3 linked regions of the Homo sapiens genome follow. The protein of the gene in region 1 purifies or fractionates together with the protein of each later gene. This does not show direct contact. Each region holds a gene or a part of one and is shown in the gene's direction. Other genes may lie near its edges.

What was found. The genes of interacting proteins can lie anywhere in the genome.
Region 2: the proteins of PSG1 (region 1) and MEGF8 purify together in Homo sapiens (affinity purification with mass spectrometry; 2 studies listed by BioGRID and IntAct, with this or other methods). This does not show direct contact.
Region 3: the proteins of PSG1 (region 1) and KLHL25 purify together in Homo sapiens (affinity purification with mass spectrometry; 2 studies listed by BioGRID and IntAct, with this or other methods). This does not show direct contact.

What each region holds. Positions count from the first base shown.
Region 1 is NC_000019.10:42,876,688-42,883,824, reverse strand, and holds the start of PSG1 (pregnancy-specific beta-1-glycoprotein 1 isoform 2 precursor), read left to right. Parts: upstream 1-4,111; 5' UTR 4,112-4,243; coding exon 4,244-4,307; intron 4,308-5,546; coding exon 5,547-5,912; intron 5,913-7,137.
Region 2 is NC_000019.10:42,321,451-42,328,657, forward strand, and holds the start of MEGF8 (multiple epidermal growth factor-like domains protein 8 isoform 1 precursor), read left to right. Parts: upstream 1-4,184; 5' UTR 4,185-4,793; coding exon 4,794-4,980; intron 4,981-7,207. Other genes in the region: TMEM145 (transmembrane protein 145 isoform 1 precursor), read left to right, coding at 2,133-2,339, 2,828-3,076. UniProt on the Homo sapiens protein: Acts as a negative regulator of hedgehog signaling.
Region 3 is NC_000015.10:85,758,803-85,763,932, reverse strand, and holds the end of KLHL25 (kelch-like protein 25), read left to right. Parts: intron 1-2,921; 3' UTR 2,922-4,607; downstream 4,608-5,130. UniProt on the Homo sapiens protein: Substrate-specific adapter of a BCR (BTB-CUL3-RBX1) E3 ubiquitin ligase complex involved in various processes, such as translation homeostasis and lipid synthesis.

The sequences.
Region 1 (7,137 bases):
CTAGATAACCACATGCAAAACAGTGAATTTAGATAACTCTACCTCCCACCATATCAAACAATTCTCTGAAAAATTCATCAGTGAGTTAAATATCAGACCTATAAAACATCTTAAAATAGACATAGAGGTAAATATTGATGAACTCAAATGTGCAATGGATTCTTAGATATGATACAAAAGCATGAGAAACAAGAAAAACAAGATAAATTGGGCTTTATCAAGATGTGAGCCTTTTGTACATCAAAGAAAATTATCAAGACAATAATTAATAGACACAGAATGAGAGAAAATATTTGACAACCACATATAGGCAGTTTTCATGTCCAGATAATATAAAGAACTAGCTACAACTCAGTAACAAAAGGAGAAACCATTAAATTTATAAATGGGCAAAAGACTCAAATATACATTTCTTCAAAGAAGATATACAAATAGTCAAGAAGGACATGAAAAGATACTAAACATCATTAGTCATTAGGAAAATACAAAGTCAAAGCTGCAATGAGACACCACATCAAACCTACAAAACTGGCTACCGTTCTTTTAAAATGTTAAATAACAAGTAGCAGCATTATGTAGAATTTGGAATCCTCATACATGGCTGGTGAGAATATAAAAAAGTACAGCAGCTAGGAGAAAGAGTATTGCTGTTCCTCAAAAAGCTAATTATAGAATTCTCATTTGAAATAACATCCATTCCTAGGTATATACCCAAAGAATTAAATCCACGGACTCAAAAAGGTACTTGCATGGGAATGTTCATTGCAGCATTATTCAGAAAAGATAAAATATGAAAACAATCCAAGTGTTCATCAACACATGAATAAACAAATATGGTGACACATAAAACAGAATGATAATCTGCCATAAAGAGGAAGGAAGCTCTGACACCCGCTGGAACATGCATGGACTTGGAAAACATTATGCTAAGTGAAATGTGTCAGAAACAAAATAACATAATTGTATAATTCCATTTATATGAAACATCAAGAATAGGCAAATTCATAGAGACAGAGTAGAGGTGATCAAGGCCTAGGGTGGAACATACAGGGAGTTATTGTTTAAAAGATACAAAGTTTCAGTTTAAAATGATAACAATTTTCTAGGAAAAATACTGGTGATGGTAATTTAACACGGTGTATGCGGTTAATTTCATTGATTGTGCATTTTAAAGTGGTTAAAATAGCACATTATTCACAGAACTGTGAAAAATAGATTTCTATTATTTAATTCACCCAGGCTAAGGTGTTTGTTATAGGAGCTGAAGCCTATGAATACATCATCTGACCCAGTGTTTTCAATGAAATGCATCAGTTTTTCAATCAAGTTAGCTGGAAGCTCCTGTCCCCAAGAGAACCAGAGGCCCCAAAACAAGAGCTCCAGCAGGGGCTCAGCCAGCACAGGTCCCATAAGGCAGCCTCAATGTCAGGCCCTGGATGGCATGTGAGGCCACAGCAATACAACCACAACGTGAAAGTGTAAGTATTTTTACTACTTACAGACACTGGGAAGCACTTGGCACACCTGGAGACCACAGACACAGAGGTCAGTGAGCCCAGGGAGGGAGGAGAGAAGAGACCGGTAAGCCAATGGCTTTATTAAGTCCAGGGTGTTATCTGACAGGTTTCCAGCAGGGAGCTTTAATGGATGTGTTCAAAGCAAGCAGCAAACACTGGGAACAGGAGCTCACGCTGTGACTGAGAGGTGGTCACTTTTAATGTGAGGGCGAATGTCAGAATTATCAGTTTAAAGAAAGCAGCTGGAGAGACGGGAGCCCAGCACACCAAGCAGGAGAGATGTCTCTAAGATTTGATCTCTGGACACCAACTGGAGCCACTTGAACCAGACACAGTATTGAAAACTGCCATGGTGACCAAGCCCTGCCTCTGATTTGAGGCAAATAAACTTACACCTTAAAAAATGAATGCCAAGGCAACATGACACTATGAGCATCATGACATCCAGGGACACCAGCAGGGTGTGGTACTCTGCCCTGGAGTCAGAATCCTGGGTTCTGGTCCCTGGGAGTGAGAAAATGAAAATGACTTGTCCCTGCCCCCCTGACATTGATCTTCCCACCCTGCTGCTCCCAAGCCCAACTGCAGTGCTCAGCCCCAGACATCACTGCCCCCAGGGTATACACAGTGCCGCCTACTGCACACAAACACAAACTCACAGAAGGTGACAAAAATCTGCATTTGGGACATCTGATTGTGAAAGAGGGAGAACAGTGAACATAGAGCCACAGAGACTGGGACTCACGGGGCTGGAAGGTGATGGGGCTGTAACATAACACAGGTGTGACCTCGTGTGAACTGTGCAGATCCACGTGGAATAAAACATGCATCCTGGCCTGGAATTGCTGCCGTTCACACTTCCCTCCCTGTCCACCAGAGGGGGACAGAGTCCCTCCCAGCCTGGAGTCTTCCCAGGGGATGCCAACCTCACTCAGCGGAACCCACAGCCCAGCAGTGTCCACCCTCTACAGGGTCACTTCTGCCCAAGTCCTCAGCGCCCTCCATGCTCCCCACACGGACACTGTCAGCTCCTCCCTGACCTGGCGGCCGCCAACCTAACACCACTCCCCCTGCAGGTAGCTCCTCCCCACACACCTGCTCCTTCCCTGGGCCCAGCTAAAGGCATCTCCCAGGGCAGCGCTGGTGCACGCGATGCCACACCGGGTGCTTTCCCCTCGTGACCTCCCTCCATCCTCATCAACTCTTTCTGGCACTGCTCCCTAAATGCCCACCCCTGCTCCATCTGTCCTGTTCTCTGGGGCATCCCAGGCCAAGCCTAGCGCTGACACAGAACAGCGGCTGCCTGAGGGCCCACAGCCTCCCCGGGAATCAGCCAGGCACCCTGTGACCTGCCTGCCCGCTGCACCCTGGGGGCTCAGAGCGCGTGTGATGGTCACACACAGGCACCATCCGGGATGTGGCCACCTAACACCAGCTGTCCCTTGGGAAGACAGACCTCTCCTGTGTGCTTGCGGGAAGAAGGGGAATGTTATTGCTCTTTGATCTCAGAACACAACTCACCCCCACCCGCCCTCTCAGGTGAGAGCAATGTCCCTCCAGACAGGCTCTCTGGCCACTGCCTGTTCCTCCTCTACACACAGCAGCTTGGCCAGGTCAAAACCATCAGGACAGACCCCTGGGTATGTCAGCATATGGAGGGCTGAGCCCATCATGGCCACGGAGTAAGTTGGGATGAATCTCTCCAGCTCTGAACCCCTGCTCTGTCCCAGGCTCCCCCTCCCGCATCTCAATGAGCCATGTCCCGCAGGGTTCCTGGGTAACTCCCCACTTCCTCCTGCACCACCACAGGGAAGGTGTGGTGACCACAGGACAGTCAGCTGGGCAGAGAAGAGAGGACATCAAAGATGGTCAGGAAGAACATGAGAAACTATGAGCTCCAGCTCAGCCGCCAGACCCCAGGGAGCCATAGACTGACAGAGAACTGTCCCTTTGACTATGGGACTCACAGCCCCCACTGAGCAACCAGCACAGGCCTCTCCTCCCAAGAGGCATGAGAGATTCACCCTGCACACCGCCAGAAAGGACAGTTTCCTCTGGGACACCCAGGTCCTGAATGTCCATCCTTGGAAGCTGCAGCCAAGCTAGACATGATTAGAGAAAGGAAGGGTCCCTCTCACCAGGCAACACACAGCTCACCCACAGCACAATGGGGCATCATTCTGACAGGGACCTGGTACAGCTCCAGCCTCCTGCACTGAAGGGGAGAGCCTGATGGGGATGAAAGAGGCCAAAGGGCGTTAATTTGCACCCCGACCCAGAGCCATGGGGACACCAGGAGGCTGAGGCCCAGGACTGTTCTTGCCCAACCTGCAGGGTATGTGTCTGACTGTGTGGGTCTGTGTGTATCTCTTCTGTGTGTGTGTGTGTGTGTGTGTGTGTGTGTGTCTGTGTGTCTGCACAAAGTGTGTCTTGAGGTTTGGTGAAAGAATCACTGCTGAAAAAGGCAGAGGCCGCCACAATTCCCAGGGACCTGAAACACAGACAAAAGGAGAAACAGAAGGAGGGACAAGGAGGCAGGACTTAGAGAGGAGGGGACAGAGAGGTGTCCTGGGCCTGACCCTGCCCATGAGCTTGAGAATTGCTCCTGCCCTGGGAAGAGGCTCAGCACAGAAAGAGGAAGGACAGCACAGCTGACAGCCGTGCTCAGAGAGTTTCTGGATCCTAGGCTTATCTCCACAGAGGAGAACACACAAGCAGCAGAGACCATGGGAACCCTCTCAGCCCCTCCCTGCACACAGCGCATCAAATGGAAGGGGCTCCTGCTCACAGGTGAGGAGAGAACTTCCTGGGAGAGGACAGGAGGAGGAAGCAGAGTGACTGGATGGGGTCTCCTGGAGAGGATGGGGTTCTAAAAAATGAAAGAAGCCAGCACTTTGGGAGTCTGAGGTGGGTGGATCATGAGATCAGAAGTTCAAGATCAGTCTGGCCAACACAGTGAAGCCCTGTCTGTACTGAAAATACAAAAATTTAACCAGGTATGGTGGTGTGCTCCTATAATCCTAGCTACTCGGGAGGCTGAGGCAGGAGAATCACGTGAACCCGGGAGGCAGAAGTTGCAGATAGCTGAGATAGCACCACCGCATGCCAGCCTGGGCGACAGTACAAGACTCCATCTCAAAAAAAAAAAAAGAAAAAAGAAAAAAAGGAAAGAAGGCTCTGTTGGAGCCTGGATAGGGGAAAATACACCAGAGAGGGACAGGGGTCAAAACAGGAAAGTCGTATTGGACCGGAATTGGTAAGAGGTAGGAAAATCTTAAGTGTTCTGTTTTCCTGATTAATCATCAGGGGCCACCATATTTTGAAAAATGATAATAATAACTATAGCAGATGACACCTCAAATAAAAATATAAACAGGGCAGGAAACACTGTCCTCAGCAAGAAACCTCAACAATTGGGGGAAAAAAAACACCCAGGGCATGGAGGGCCCTGAGAACTCTCACATCTACAGGAGTCTGCAGCCTGTTCCAGGCACTGGGGTGCAACCAAGATCACAAAAGTCCCTGTCTTCACGGAGCTCACGCTGTCATGGGGGGGAAGACAGACATGCAAAGAGATCTAGAATGTGAGGTCAGGTGTTGACAAGAACCCTGGAGGGAGCAGAGCAGGGAAAGGTCAGAAAGGGAAGACCCAGGGTCTCTGAAGCAGGCATCAGGAAAGAAGTCTAACGATGCCCTGATGTAAGCAGGACCTGAGGGCATTGTGGAGGGGGCCATGCGGACCCCTGGGGAAGAGGATTCCAAACAGAAAAATGCCAACGTCAGAAGTGTTGAAGGAATGGGCGTCATGCTGCTGACCTTGACCTAGTAGGACAGTAGGACACACACACATACACACACACAATCACACATGCCGCTTTTGTGTGTGTGTGTGTGTGTGTGTTTGTATGTGTGTGTGTGTCTGTGTTGTCAAGGCTGAGGACTGAAGAGACCTTCTCAGGACCCAGGGCCCCATGTTTTCACACCAATACATAGGTCTCAATATTGACTGATGTTCTCTCCACCTCCTAGCATCACTTTTAAACTTCTGGAACCTGCCCACCACTGCCCAAGTCACGATTGAAGCCGAGCCAACCAAAGTTTCCGAGGGGAAGGATGTTCTTCTACTTGTCCACAATTTGCCCCAGAATCTTACCGGCTACATCTGGTACAAAGGGCAAATGAGGGACCTCTACCATTACATTACATCATATGTAGTAGACGGTGAAATAATTATATATGGGCCTGCATATAGTGGACGAGAAACAGCATATTCCAATGCATCCCTGCTGATCCAGAATGTCACCCGGGAGGACGCAGGATCCTACACCTTACACATCATAAAGGGAGATGATGGGACTAGAGGAGTAACTGGACGTTTCACCTTCACCTTACACCGTAAGTGATTCCACATGATCCCTGGGTGTTGGGGGACAGGGGTCACTTCTACTTCACACACACAGGATTGTCAGGCCTGGACTCTGCCTGTGTCACTCACTGCGTTATGTCCCATGCTGGGATTTGGGCATTTAGTGCAGGACACACACAGAGGAGACAAATTTCAACAGATCAGAATTCCTTTCCTGCATCCAGACCCTGCAGACACTCGCTGCAGAGGAAGGACAGTCTGATGGGGGGACTCAGCAGGAGGAGATCAGTCTCAGCCAAGCACCTCATGCCCTCTTCATAAATTTGACCCTGAGAAAGACCCTGGATAACTGAGTAGGGCTTGGCCTGAGGGGCCCCCTGAGATACTCTCAGAGAAGCTCAGCCCTAGAAGCCTCAACCCCAGACCCTTGTCCCTAAATCCTTGTTCCAGATAAAGCTGAGGAGCCTGTGCTGGGACTGGGTTGTGGCTTCTTGGGCAGGGCTTACTGGGACCAAGGATTTACCAGCTGTCAGAGGACTGTGTCTCCTGGAGCTGTTCACCAGCCAGGGCTCAGCCCTCAGAGCCTCATCTGGGCCAGGACAGAGCTTTCTTCACCTGATACTCAGAGTGGAGAGGACAGAAAGACAAGCTTTGTAGGCCATCACCCAACTGCCTTAGGAGGCTTAGGATAGTCCATAGAAAGACTAATGTCCCCAGAAGCAGAAACAGAAGAGAGAAGATGTACCAGGTAGCAGCTTGTCCACAGGGATCTGACGTAAAGGTGCTTTCTCATGGAAGCAAATTAATAATAAATGCTGTTTGTGTGAAACCTCCACTGTGCCAAGCATTAGGTCAGGTGACTGTGAATAATTTAACATTTATTCACAGATAGCATGAAAAGCCACAGTCCATTTGCCATTTAGCTTATTTGATTGAGAGAAAACTGAGGCACAGGAAGGCACAGTGACTGAGCAAGAGTCACACAAACACAAAGGGGAGATCAGGGTCACATGAGGTCTGTCTGTAGCCACAGGCCCATCCTCTACTCCACCAGAAGTGAGGGCTTACTGGGTTCCAAGCACCCCATAGTCATTTGTTGGCTCAAATCCTCTCTTCTTAGGCATCCAAACCTCAGAGGAGTGAGAGCAAATGGTCAGCTGATTAGTCTGCACTCCAGAACTAAATCACCTGCTTCAACCATCAGAGTCAGTGCAAAAAAATGTCCAGGCCTCCTCCTCAGATCTTAACCACCAT
Region 2 (7,207 bases), 560 kb from region 1:
GCGATCTCGGCTCACTGCAACTTCTGCCTCCCAAGTTCATGCCATTCCCCTGCCTCAGCCTCCCTAGTAGCTGGGACTACAGGCGCCCACCACCACGCCTAGCAAATTTTTTTTGTATTTTTAGTAGAGACGGGGTTTCACTATGTTGGCCAGGATGGTCTCGATCTCCTGACCTCATGATCCGCCCGCCTCGGCCTCCCAAAGTGCTGGGATTACAGGAGTGAGCCACTGCGCCTGGCCCCCACCACGTCTATTCTTTGCCCTGGTTCACATCCTATCTGACATTCTTGGTGACAGTTCTAATATTCATTAATTTATTCATCAATTGTTCACTGGGCACCTGTCTTGAACCAGTCTGTTTCATTCTAGGAACATCCATATGCATTTACTCCTGCCCTCTTGTTTAATTGTCAGAGCAGCTCCAGGAGAGGGTGGATAATTGACATTGTTCCCACTACACAGAGCGGGGAAGCTAAGGCCCAGAGAGGAGAAGTGACGTGCCAGGGCTCCGTGGCCTTTGGCGGCAGGCAAATACTTTGAACCCTATCCTTCTCCAGCAGACCACAAGGTCTGAAATGAAGGGGAACCAGAAAGGGCAACAGGCATGACCCAGTGTCCCAGCTTCTGACTCCAGGGATCTACAACGTACCCCGTGTAGGGAGTGGGCCCAGCCACCGAGGGAGGGGACAGGTCCCCATCCTTTGCCTCAGAGGCTGACATAGGTACAGACTCGCTCACCTTCCCAGGCTGGTCTATCCTGAAGCTCTGCAGGAAGTCAGAAAGGGACAGAAAGAGGAGAAATGCTGAGAACCCATCATGTGCTGGGCTCTGCACCAGTGGTTTTCATTTCCACCCTCTCATCTTTCCAAGTAGGCGCTACAGTCCCTTTTCCCCACAGCGAGGCTCAGGGAGTTTAATCAACATGCCCCAGATCCCATACTCAGTGAGCTACAGATCCCAGAGGCGGGATGCAGGCTCAGAACGGCAAGCACAGCGCCCTTCCTGCTGTATCTCAGCCAGCTTCCTTCCTAAGGATGCTCACGTTAGCTCAGCACAGCTCCACCTGGGTATCTCAACGCTCATTGCTTTCAGCTCCTTGTTCATTTTTTTCAGCACAACCTTAGAAGAGCTGTGTTAGGTTTCCGGGATATGGCGGTGGAGTCACACCCAGTCCCTGCCTTCACAGCCTATCAGACTAACTGGTACCAGACATCCCTACATTCCACCAATATTTATTTATTTATTTATTTATTTTAAATTTTTTTTTTTTGAGATGGAATCTTCCTCTGTCGTCCAGGTTGGAGTGCAGTGGCATGATCTCGGCTCACTGCAACCTCTGCCTCCTGGGTTCAAGCAATTCTCCTGCCTTAGCCTCCCAAGTAGCTGGGATTACAGGCGCACCACCACACCTGGCTAATTTTTGTATTTTTAGTAGAGATGGAGTTTCACCATGTTGGCCATGCTGGTCTCAAACTCCTGACCTCAGGTGATCCGCCCGCCTCGGCCTCCCCAAGTGCTGGGATTACAGGCGTGAGCCATGGCGCCTTGCCCACCAATATTTACTGAAGGCTTATATGCGCCAGGCATGGTTCTAGAAGGTACTAGGGACTCAGTAGGGAACAGAAGAGTCTGGTTCCTGCCTCATCGAGACATTTTAGAGTCTATTAGTTGCTGTCCAATTGAACTTTCTGTATTTATGAAAATATCCTATTACCTGCACTTTCCAATATGGGAGCTACTAACCACATGTGGCTGTTGAGCACTTGAATGTGGGTAGTGCATAGTGAGTGTGTAGTGAGGAGTGTGACCAAAATTTAAATTTTATTTTGATTAAATTTAAGCTACATGCAGCCAGTGGCTATCATACAGTGCAGGACGCTGACCCTAAGCAATCAGTGACAGCTCAGTGATCAGGCCTCTGATGGAGGAAGCACAGGCCGAGTTTTGTTGAAGGGAAAAGGTGAGGGTCCAGGGCATTTGGAGAGCCCAGAGGGGACGCCTAATCCAGTGTGAATGGCTTCAGGGAAGTGTGGTGGATGTCAACTGAAAGGGAATCCTTCGGACCCCAAGTTTATGGGGACAGCCTCCGGCCTGACAGTGCCTCTCACACCTGCTCCTGGCCCTGGCCTCAGATCATGACCCGCCCATCAGCGGCCAACAAGAACTTCCCGTACCACGTGCGCACGTCGCAGATCGCTTCAGCCGGAGTCCCTGGACCCGGAGGGAGCCAATCCGCTGACAAGGCCTTCCCGCAGCACGTCTATGGGAACGTGACGTTTATCAGCGACTCGGTGCCCAACTTCACGGAGCTCTTCTCCATCCCCCCGCCCGCCACCTCCGTAAGCCCCGCGGCCCCAGCGCCCGAGGAGCTGCTGGCGCCGCCCCTGGAGTACCTGACCCCGCTCCCGGCCCCGCCGCCGCCCCCAGCGCCCGGACCCCTGAGCCCTCCTCCTGCCTTTCGCACTCCCCGCGCCCCAACACCGCGCCGCGACCGTCCCCTGGCGCCCGCGCCCACCCTGCCTGACTGGGTTCTGGCGCTGTTGCGCACACCCCCGCAGACTCCCTGCGCCGTGCCCCCACCGCCCGCCTTCCGCGGCTCTCCCCCAGCTCCCCGGCCGCCGCCGGAGTTCGCCCCGCGCGCCCCGACGCCGCCCTTTGAGTACCTGGCCCCGCTGCCCAGGCGCCCCGCCACCCAGTCCTTCCCTGACTGACAACGTGCGTCCACACCTGGGGTGGAAGGGTTCTCCGGGGGAGGGGGACGGGCCTTCGGGGCCGCATCTGCCCCCCGAGGGTCCCGGACGGCCTCTGACCCTGACCCCCCTCCCAGGCCGGGAAGCAGGTGGAGGAGACAGCGGTGGCGGCGGCGGTGGCCCCGAGGGGCCGCGTGGTGACCATGGCCGAGCCGGGCGCAGCCTCCCCCCCACTTCCCGCTCGGTTCCCCAAGGCGGCCGACTCGGGCTGGGACGGCCCGACGCCGCCCTACCAGCCGCTCGTGCCCCAGACGGCAGCGCCGCACACCGGCTTCACCGAATACTTCAGCATGCACACGGCCGGGGGCACTGCACCCCCGGTCTGAGCACCCCTGCCCGCCCCTGCCCCATGGGCCATGACCGGGCCCCGGCCGGGCTCCGGACCCCTGCTTTATCCCGGCCCGAGAGCTCGCCCATCCCCGGCCTTCCCGACCCTTCCCACCCCGCGCGCCCAGGTTGGGTACGCTGCGTCCCGCCCCCCTCCCCTCTGTGCCAAACGGTCCCGCGGGAGCCGCTCTCCCCGTCCCCTCCCTCAGCCCCTGCCCCGAGCGGCGCCGGATTCTGGGCTCCCGCTGTTCCGTGACCTCCGGCCCCCTGGCCCCCTTCGAGACCTCTGACCCCGCTGGACTCCGGAACACCCGTGGTGACCGCCGGGACCCTGCCTGTGACTCTCCAGGACTCTGCGACCCCGGGATGGATATTGCGATGCTGGTCTCGACCCTGAAACCCTCCCTCGGATCTGTGACCTCGGACCCGTACTCCATCTGCCGCATCTCCATTCCGGGGGCCTTCCCTCGGGTCCCTGGCAGAAAGACATTTTACCCCTTCTTGCCAAAATAAAAAAGGATTCGTTTTTATCTATAACATGGCTTCTTTTGCATCTTGATGGTGTTCAGCGGCGGGGCTGAGCCAGAACTATGTCAGGCTCGGGACCTCAGTGTGTCCATCTGTGAAATGGGAATTTGGAACCGGAGGCAGGGGCCTGTATAACCTGATCTTTATGTTGCCCCAGAATGTGGGAACATTGAAGATGATCAAACATCTAGCAGGGTCTTGCACCGCTCCTTTATTTTTGCCTTCCTTTCCTCACTCAGAGGTAGAGGCGCCCTCCAGTGGCCCATGCTTTGCTGAACCACAGGCACCCAGAGTTTGGGTTACGATCTTAGCACTGCGCATATGTGTATTTCTCTCCCTCCAGGAGGACGCTGCTGCGCATGCGGTTGGGAACAAATGGGCGGGGATTTCCCCGGAAGTCTCCCTTTATGGAGGGTTGGGGTTGGGCGCTCCGCAGTCCTCCCAGGGCCGCTCTGACCGGCCGCTCTGTAACTTCTCGCCTCCTCTTCGCCGTCCCTCCCACAGCGGCTGCTCGGCTCCCGCCCCCTCGCCCTCCCACAGCGGGTCTTCCCGCGGCCGCTCTGGCCCAAGCGTCCCCTCGTCTCTCTGATCTGGCCCATCCGGCTTCGGAGGGAGGCGAGGGTGGGTGAGCAAAGGGATTGGGTCTGTGGGGTCCAGGCCCGAACCCCTGAAGACGGGCTCCGCCCCCGGCACCCGCTCGCGCCCCGCCCCCGGCTGGAGGAGTCTCTCCTGGACCATCCGAACCTAGCCTGTCCCGGCCCGCAGCCTCTATGGAGGCTCCTGCCGGGCCGTAGAGCCCTTCGCCCCCTGGGGACCCACCCGTCTATAAGGTCCGTTTGGCCTGCAGCAGCCTGAGTCCGTAATGCTGGGCACTGTTCATGGGATCGGCCCCCTATGGAGCCCTGTGTCTATAGGGGACTCCTACGGTCCCTAGGGTTCGGCCCCGTCCATAATGACTCCATATACAGGGCCTTCCATCGCTCTATAGGGCTCAGCCCTCGGCTTCCAGAGCCTGTCAGCAGTGGCCGTACCCTTCGCCGGGACTGCCGGGTCTCCGGGACCTCTTCGATCTACAAGGTCATGTTATGCCTATAGAGGTCGCATTTGCAGGGCCTCACCCCGGGTAGAGGGTCCTCTCCAGGTTTTTACGGCCTGTCCCCGCTCTAAGGGTCAGTGCAGGAGGCGGCGATGGCCCTGGGCAAGGTTCTGGCCATGGCACTGGTTTTGGCCTTGGCCGTGCTGGGGTCGCTGTCCCCTGGGGCCCGGGCGGGGGACTGCAAGGGGCAGCGGCAGGTGCTGCGGGAGGCGCCAGGCTTCGTGACGGATGGTGCGGGCAACTACAGCGTCAATGGCAACTGCGAGTGGCTCATCGAGGGTGAGTGGGGCCGCGTGGGTCACTCACTAATTCGCTGGTAGTTCATTCATGTGTGCATTCATCCACTCACCACATTCCCAGAGCTCGGTTCTGGTCCAGGCCTTTTGCTCTAAAATGCCTGACACCCAGGGTTGCAGCCAACCTGGGCCCTGCCCTGGAAGGCCTCCAAGTCTGGTGGGGGAGATGCACCTACACCCAGATTTACAATTACAAGACAGGAGCATCAGTGCCGGGCCTTCTGAGTAACTGTTAAGAACTCAGGGTCTGGGTCCAATCATTTGGCTTTGAATTTGGTTCTACTACTACTACTTTTTTTTTTTTTTTTTTTTGAGATGGGGGCCTCACTCTGTCACCCAGGCTGGAGTGCAATGGTACCAACACAATTTACTTACTGCAGCCTCGACCTCCTGGGCTCAAGTGATCCTCCCACCTCAGCCTCCCAAGTAACTGAGTGTGTAGAGACAGAGTCTCACCATGTCGCCCAGGCTAGTCCTGAACTCTTGGGCTCAAACGATCCTCGCACCTCAGCCTCCCAAAGTGTTGGGATTGTAGGTGTGAGCCACTGTGCCTGGCTTCTTATTATTAGCTTTGTGACTTTGAGCAGGTGGTTTTCTTTCTCTGAGGTTCTGTTTCCTTCCCCCACAAATGGGATAACAACAGTACTCACCTCATAGAGTTGTTGGAATGAAATGAAAACAGGTATTTAACATGCCTGATGTGTGGCATATAGTAACTGTTCAATAAATGGCATTAGGATTATTGTTGTTGTTATTTGTGAAGTACTTCAATAAAAGCATTTTTCTTCAGTCATTCATGTGCCAGACATTATGTTTCCCATTGGACATAGCCCAGACTGAGACAGCTCCAGCAATCCCTGGTGACTTAGGTCTTGGAGTCTAGTTGGGGAGACAAACACATTAATAGTGAGAGACAAGAGTGGTCTTTGATGGAGGAACCCCAGAGGCCTGGGAGAGCCCAGAGAAAGTGCCTGATCTGGGGCCGGGGAGAACAGAGAGGCTTCCTGGAGGAGGAAATGTCTAAGCTGAGACTTAAAGGACCAATAGGAATCTGTCAGGAGTGGGAGGAAAGGCCCCAGCCCTACCCTTCTGGGCTCCCAGTCAGTGGGAGAGACAAACCCACTCCGAGGCTGTTTGTTTTCCTTTTCCACCCAATAAACTCCTATGCATGCCTCAGAACCCTGCCCCAGTGGCTCTTTCTCTGTGAAGACATGTGGCTTAACCTGGGGTATAGCTGAGATCAGAGGCATCTGTACGAGGGAGCAGAAGGGCATTCCAGGCAAGAATAGCTGTGCAAAGGCGGGGAAGCGGGAGAGTGATGCTTTTGAAGAACTAGAAATCCAGTGTGTTAAAACATAGAATACTGGCAGGGTATGGTGGCTCATGCCTGTAATCCCAGCACTTTGGGAGGCCGAGGCCGGCAGATCGCCTGAAGTCAGGAGTTTGAGACCAGCCTGGGCAGTATGGTGAAACCCCATCTCTACTAAAAATACAAAAATTAGCTGGGTGTGATGGCGCGCGCCTGTAGTCCCAGCTTCTCAGGAGGCTGAGGCACAAGAATCACTTGAACCTGGAGGTTGCAGTGAGCCAATATTGTGCCACTACGCTCCAGTCTGGGCGGCAGAGCGAGACTCCATCTGAAACAAAAACAAAAACATAGAATACAAGACAACGAATGAGCCAGAGGCTGCAGGGTGGGAGGAGCCAGCAGGTGTAGGGCTCTGTGATTTTGAGCTGTATCCTGAGGGCAATACAGGGGTGAAAGAGAAGTTGAAAGGCAGTACCTGCAGAAGCCCAGGAAGGCCTCACAGAGTAGTGGATGTAAAAGCTGGCCTCCAGACAGGGGAGGTCCTGGGCAAAGGCCAGAGGTGTGACAGAGCCTGGATCATGCAGGGCCTCCCTTGGGAGGCTGTGGAGCTTTGTCTTTGTCTGGGGGCTCTGGGGAGCTATGGAAGGGTTTTGAGCAGGGAGAGGACATGATCTGATTTATGTTTTAGAAGATCTCTCTGGCTGCTGTGTGGGGTATGGATGAAGGCCTGTTTCTCAGTGATAGCATGTCTACCTGTTCCCAGCTTGGGGGCCATTCCTGTCAAGCTAGTGGGATGAGAACAGAATAGGAAGTGTGTGTGTGTGTGTGTGTGTGGCGAAGGGGTCTGTGTGCTGGATATAAATCACTCTCTGGCCTTAAAGAGTCCCAGACTGGTTAGGCC
Region 3 (5,130 bases), on another chromosome or scaffold:
CTGCCTGCAGCCCCAACCAGCGCATCGTCGTCTGCCACCTAGAATGTCGTCTGGCAGTGCCTGGGCCCGAGATGGCTTCTGTGACCACCCCGCTCCCTACGTTTCCCTCCCTGACGCTACTCTCCCAGGCAGCAGTGGGGATCAGGCCAAGGATGCTGGTGAGAAGTCCAGCTCTCGCTAGTCCCCACGAGCATGGCTGAGTCTCCTGCCTCCAGCTGGGCCCAACTGCCCCTGTCCCTGGAGGCCCCTTTCCATCCATCCTGTAAGACTCTGACGTTAGCTTCAGAAGCCACCAGGAGGTCCCCTGCACACTGTGGCCTCTGCACCCCAGATCATGGCCCCTGTTTGTCCACAAGCATTTTTTTTCCCCTGTTCTGGCCACCTGTTGGAGCTCTTCATAGGTGTGAGCGTCTGCATCGAGTTCCCTGTCATTCTCCAGAGCTGTTTGTCGTAGGTCCTGCTGTTGGAGGGCGCCCACTAGGACTCTGAGAGGTGAGACAGTTGGCATCACATGAATGGTGAGTCAGGGCTGGAGCAGGACTTGAGCCCTGAGTGTGCCGCCTGCCTGCAGGCGCCTCTGGGGAGCTGGCCACGGGCATCCTCACGTCTGCGCCCCTGGCACAGAGCACAGGCTTGGCCAGCAGCCGTCCAGAAGCGGCGGGGAATTGCTGAGCTGGAACCTGAGCGACCTCCAGGGCAGCCCCTTGCTCCAGTGTTGCGGTTGGATCCACAGCCTAGGGGATAGCAGCCAGCGGCTGCAGGAGGCCCCCGCTTACCCACTAAGGGTGATCTTGCTGTGAACATTCTCTCCTTCTCTCTCTTTCTCTCCCACTGGGCACCCCGTACTCCAGGCCCTTTAAGGCGCAGACTCCCAACCCTTCTTTCCCACCCGCCTCCAGCATGGGGGGGCTGCCGAATGCAAGGCAGGCATCCGGCTGCCGACAGCTTGTCTTCTCTTCAGGGTGTTGCTGGGGCCTAGCCACTGGGGTGCAGGGCAGGGTTCCAGTCCTGGCTCTGGGAAAGGCCGAGCTCATTAATCCACTGTGGGCTCCGTCACTGCTGCAGGAGGGACAGTACAGTACATTCTCTCCTGTCTTAAAGAAGTTGCTACAGATGGGAAATCCCAGAGCACAGGCCTGAGGATTTCTGCCAGCCTTGAGGGTTGGGCCTGGCTAAGCAAGTGCCCAGGACGGAGTCCGTCCGTCCAGGCATCAGCAGTCATTCGTTCCTGTGCCAGGCTGGGGGATAGAGCAGCATCCCACCCTTGATGGGGCAGGCTGAGCCTAGTGGGGCAGGCCCTACACCAACAACCCACAGGATGCACGTTGGCCAAGACCTGCTGCACACAGGAAGTGCAGGGCGGCCGCTGACCCTTGTCCACTCTGCAAGCTGGAGGATTAGCCCATTTCACAGTTGAGGCCAGGCCCCAGGGAGCACCTGCCAAAAATTAAAGGGACCCAGCCTGAGAGGGAACAAAGGGACCCAGCCTGAGAGGGAACACAGGAGCCTGGCCCCGAGGCTCCCCAACCCCTGTGCCTCTAGCTGTCATCTGTATTCCTTTCAGCAACTCAGGGTGCCTTGGGGGACACCCCCAGGTAGGTAGCGTGGCTGTTTAGTTCCAGGTAGCAGTGAGGCCTTGCCCTGAAGGGACCACATGTCAGCATGTGGCGTGCTGGGATGGGGCCAAGACCGGGCAGCCAGGCCCCAGAGGTTCGGGTTTGCAGTCTTAGAGCATCTCAGGATGGTTAGGGCCCCTGTGACCCCAGCTTCTCACTTGTGAGGAGCTTGAAGGGATTTGGGGGCCTTCTCAGTCGCCGAACCCAGCCTCTGTATCTGGAAACAACTTGAGCACGTGGGGAGGGCAGAATTCCTGCAAAGCAGCCTTCAGAGAACAGACGGCCCAGCACTGTGTGGGATGGAGAGGTGTACCCCACTTAAAGGGGACAGCCGTGGAGCCTCAGTGCTGGCTTCAGTGTTTAATTGAAATGTAACTAAGGTTACTTAATACACACAAGCATACAACTAGAAAGCCCCTTATGTTCTTGTTCTTACACAACTAAAACTAACACGTACAGCTTAAATACAACCAAAGCCAAAAACCGCGGACAGCGTCACCATTAATCACTGCTTTGCTGAGGCTCCTTGCCTTATGGAGTGCATGAACACTCAGGGTTGCTAGAGTGCTCCGCCTGCCTGTGCCCGCCTGTGCGAGAGGGCTCACCTTTTCCTTTCAGGGCCTCGGAGTGGTATGTGAGAGGGAACTTACTCTATTAGGGGAATTGGCTCACTTGGTGATAGAGGCTGAGAAGTCCCATGATAGGCTGCAAGCTGCAGAACCAGGAGAGCTGGGGACAGACCTCAGCCCAAGGACAAAGAGCCAAGAGCCTGGGGTGGGGGTGGGGTGGTGGGCAGCAAGTCCCAGAGGCCAGAGAACCTGGAGCTCTGATGCCCGATGGCAGGAAAAGAGCAACCTAGCTCCAGAAGAAAGAAACCTGAGTCCCCATTTCCTTAGCTTTTTATTCCACCAGGGCCCCTGCCCATCTGATGGTGCTCACCTGCAACCACGGCTCTCACGCCGGTCACCTCTGGAAGCACAGACTCACTGGGGCGGCCTGGCCATTCGAATCAAGTACCAAGCCGCCTGGGTTTCCCTTCCAGCACTGAGAATACGTAATGTGTCCCCGGGCGTCTGGGTATCCCCGAATCCAATCAAGTTGACACCTGAGTCACCTGCCACTCAGTGGGGAAAGCAGGCCTGGGGTGCCTGAATCACCAGACTGCGCTGCCGGTGAATGGTGGATCTGGCGTTCTCACGCCCGAGCCTCATGGGCAGCTGTGTCATTGTCATTTTGTTCCAGATCAGGTCAGAACAGAACAATGTGGCCACTGATTGATTTTCTCTTCCTCTCCTCCCTCCACAGACCGCGGCCTTCAGTGTCACAGCGTGGCCTTGCTTGTCTGCCACAGCGGGAGCTAAGCCGGCCCTGGGCCAGCACTCCGAGAGGTGGAAGGGGCCCTGCCAGCTCTGGGGAGCAGCAGCCTTGGGCTGTTCTGAGCTTTAGGCAAGAGAAGAGAAGCATCTCTTGCATCCGTGCCCCTGGGGGCCTCTTCAGCTTTGCAGTGGTTTGTGGGAAGACATACCTCCCAGAGGGGCATGGACTGCCACCAGGACTGACCCTGGCGTCGGGGAGAAGGACACTTGCAGAGCCTTGAGATCACCTGTTTGGCAGGTCCTGGACTGGGGCCGGGCAGGCAGGGGCAGGGAGGCGCCCCGGGTGGGCTTTGGGGCTGCGGCACTGCCACACATCCTTTCCCTCCTGGCCTGCCCTGCTGGGGCTCTACTGCCATCTATAGATGGTGTCCTGGGCCTGGGAAACTAGGTTCCCAGGGGTTGAGACCAGAAAGGTGACCAAGACAGATTTTTTAAGGTGCAGAAACTGCAGGGGGGCCTCAGTGACATCCATGAGGCCTTATTAGCAAAGGACACCCAGACCTCCAAGGTTTGTGGGCCCCTTCCACAAAGCTGTAAGTCCCAGCCCACCTACTCAGGGCCTTGCTCAGTGCTGTGGCCCGGTGGGGACACAGTTGCTCGTGGCCACTCAGTGGAGCTGGGCCTGCAGCAGACTCAAGGCTCCGAGTGCCCTGGGGGTCACCCCTCCCCTCCCCTCCTCAGAGCCCACCCTGAGAGGCAGCAGTGACCCCCATGGCACACACCTGCCAACAGCACTGGGGGCTTCTCCCCAGGAGACCACGCTGCCCTCCAAGACCAGGAGCAGCTGTGAGCTGGAGACAGCAGAGGGACCCCAGGGTGTCCCCTGCAGATCCCACCAGGGCCGCATCCATCTCAGTGTGGAGGACAGTGACGGGACCCTCACCATCCTCTTGCGTTTTGGCCCCCATTTGCTCCCTGAGCTCCAAGATAAGAATGGCCCCGAGAGAACTGCTGAACATTTGTTCATTGCTGTCACCTCCTGAGTCACTGGGGTCCCTCACCAGCACCTCCCTGACACCTGGGCTATGGAGAGGTTGGCGCCTGTCAGTGACCATCCTAATGCCTCTCGCTCACTCCCAAGCCACCATTTGAGAGGGAGGGGTGTTGGTGCCCTGACAGGGACTGGGCAGGGTGTCCAAACTTGGGGCTTCCCAGGCACCTGCAGTGTGAACACTGCTTGGCTGGCTCAAGATTAGGGCCGCGGAGGGGGCTGTGCACATACCAGTTACTTAAGCAGCCACGAGTGTCCCCCATGCCTTGGTGCGGGTCCTGGAGGCCTCTTGGGGGTGGGACCTTTGGGCAGGGTTTGCCCACTGACACGCCCGCCATGGGGCACTGGCTGCATGGGGCTCCTTGGACCCTGTAGACCCAGCAGACCCCGCCTGTGTCAGGCCAGCTGCCCGAAGGCACTTGGCTGTGGTCCCAGGGGACGGCTCTGCTGGCACACTCAGGAGCCTGGCCGCGGGGACTGCAGGGAGGGTGCCTGGACCCGTGGGGTTGCTTCATTGAGATAAAGCACACTTATCACATAGCACAAAGGACGTGCCATGGTGCTTTCCCCAAAAGTTGTGTTGCTTTTATCAGTTTTCTAACTTAATAAAAAGAGTTGAGAAAATTCTTTGCCTGCCTTGTGTGCTGGGATCAGTCTTGGAGACATTGCTGGTGGCTGACTTTGGTCTTGTCCCACCAGCCAAGGCTCAAGGCCTGCCTGCTGGCATCTGCCCCTCTCATGAGCTGGGAAGGGGGAACCCACCCAGATGAGAGGTCTCCCCATTCCTGTGCCTCCTGAAGTTGCTTTAGAAGCCATGAAGTTGATTCCGTGGAGAGTCCTGATCCTGTCTGCCCCTCCTGAGAGTGATTCTCTCCTGGAAACTCTGGTAAATAGAAGTTGGGAATGTAATTCCATCCATTCGAAAAGGCAGAACCTCCAGTTGATGCTCCTTTGTCTGAAAATAACCCGAGCGCCATTCAGAGGGGCGAAATGGCTCCAGGAGGCAGCTTCACGGCCGCAGCGCCAGCTCACGGCACCGTTGCGCCCACTGGTTGCACCGTGGGCCCTGGGCTACCTGCCCTCCTTGTGCGTTTTCATAGTCACCATGAACCTCATGAGCTCAAGCGTATGCTCACGGGTAAACATC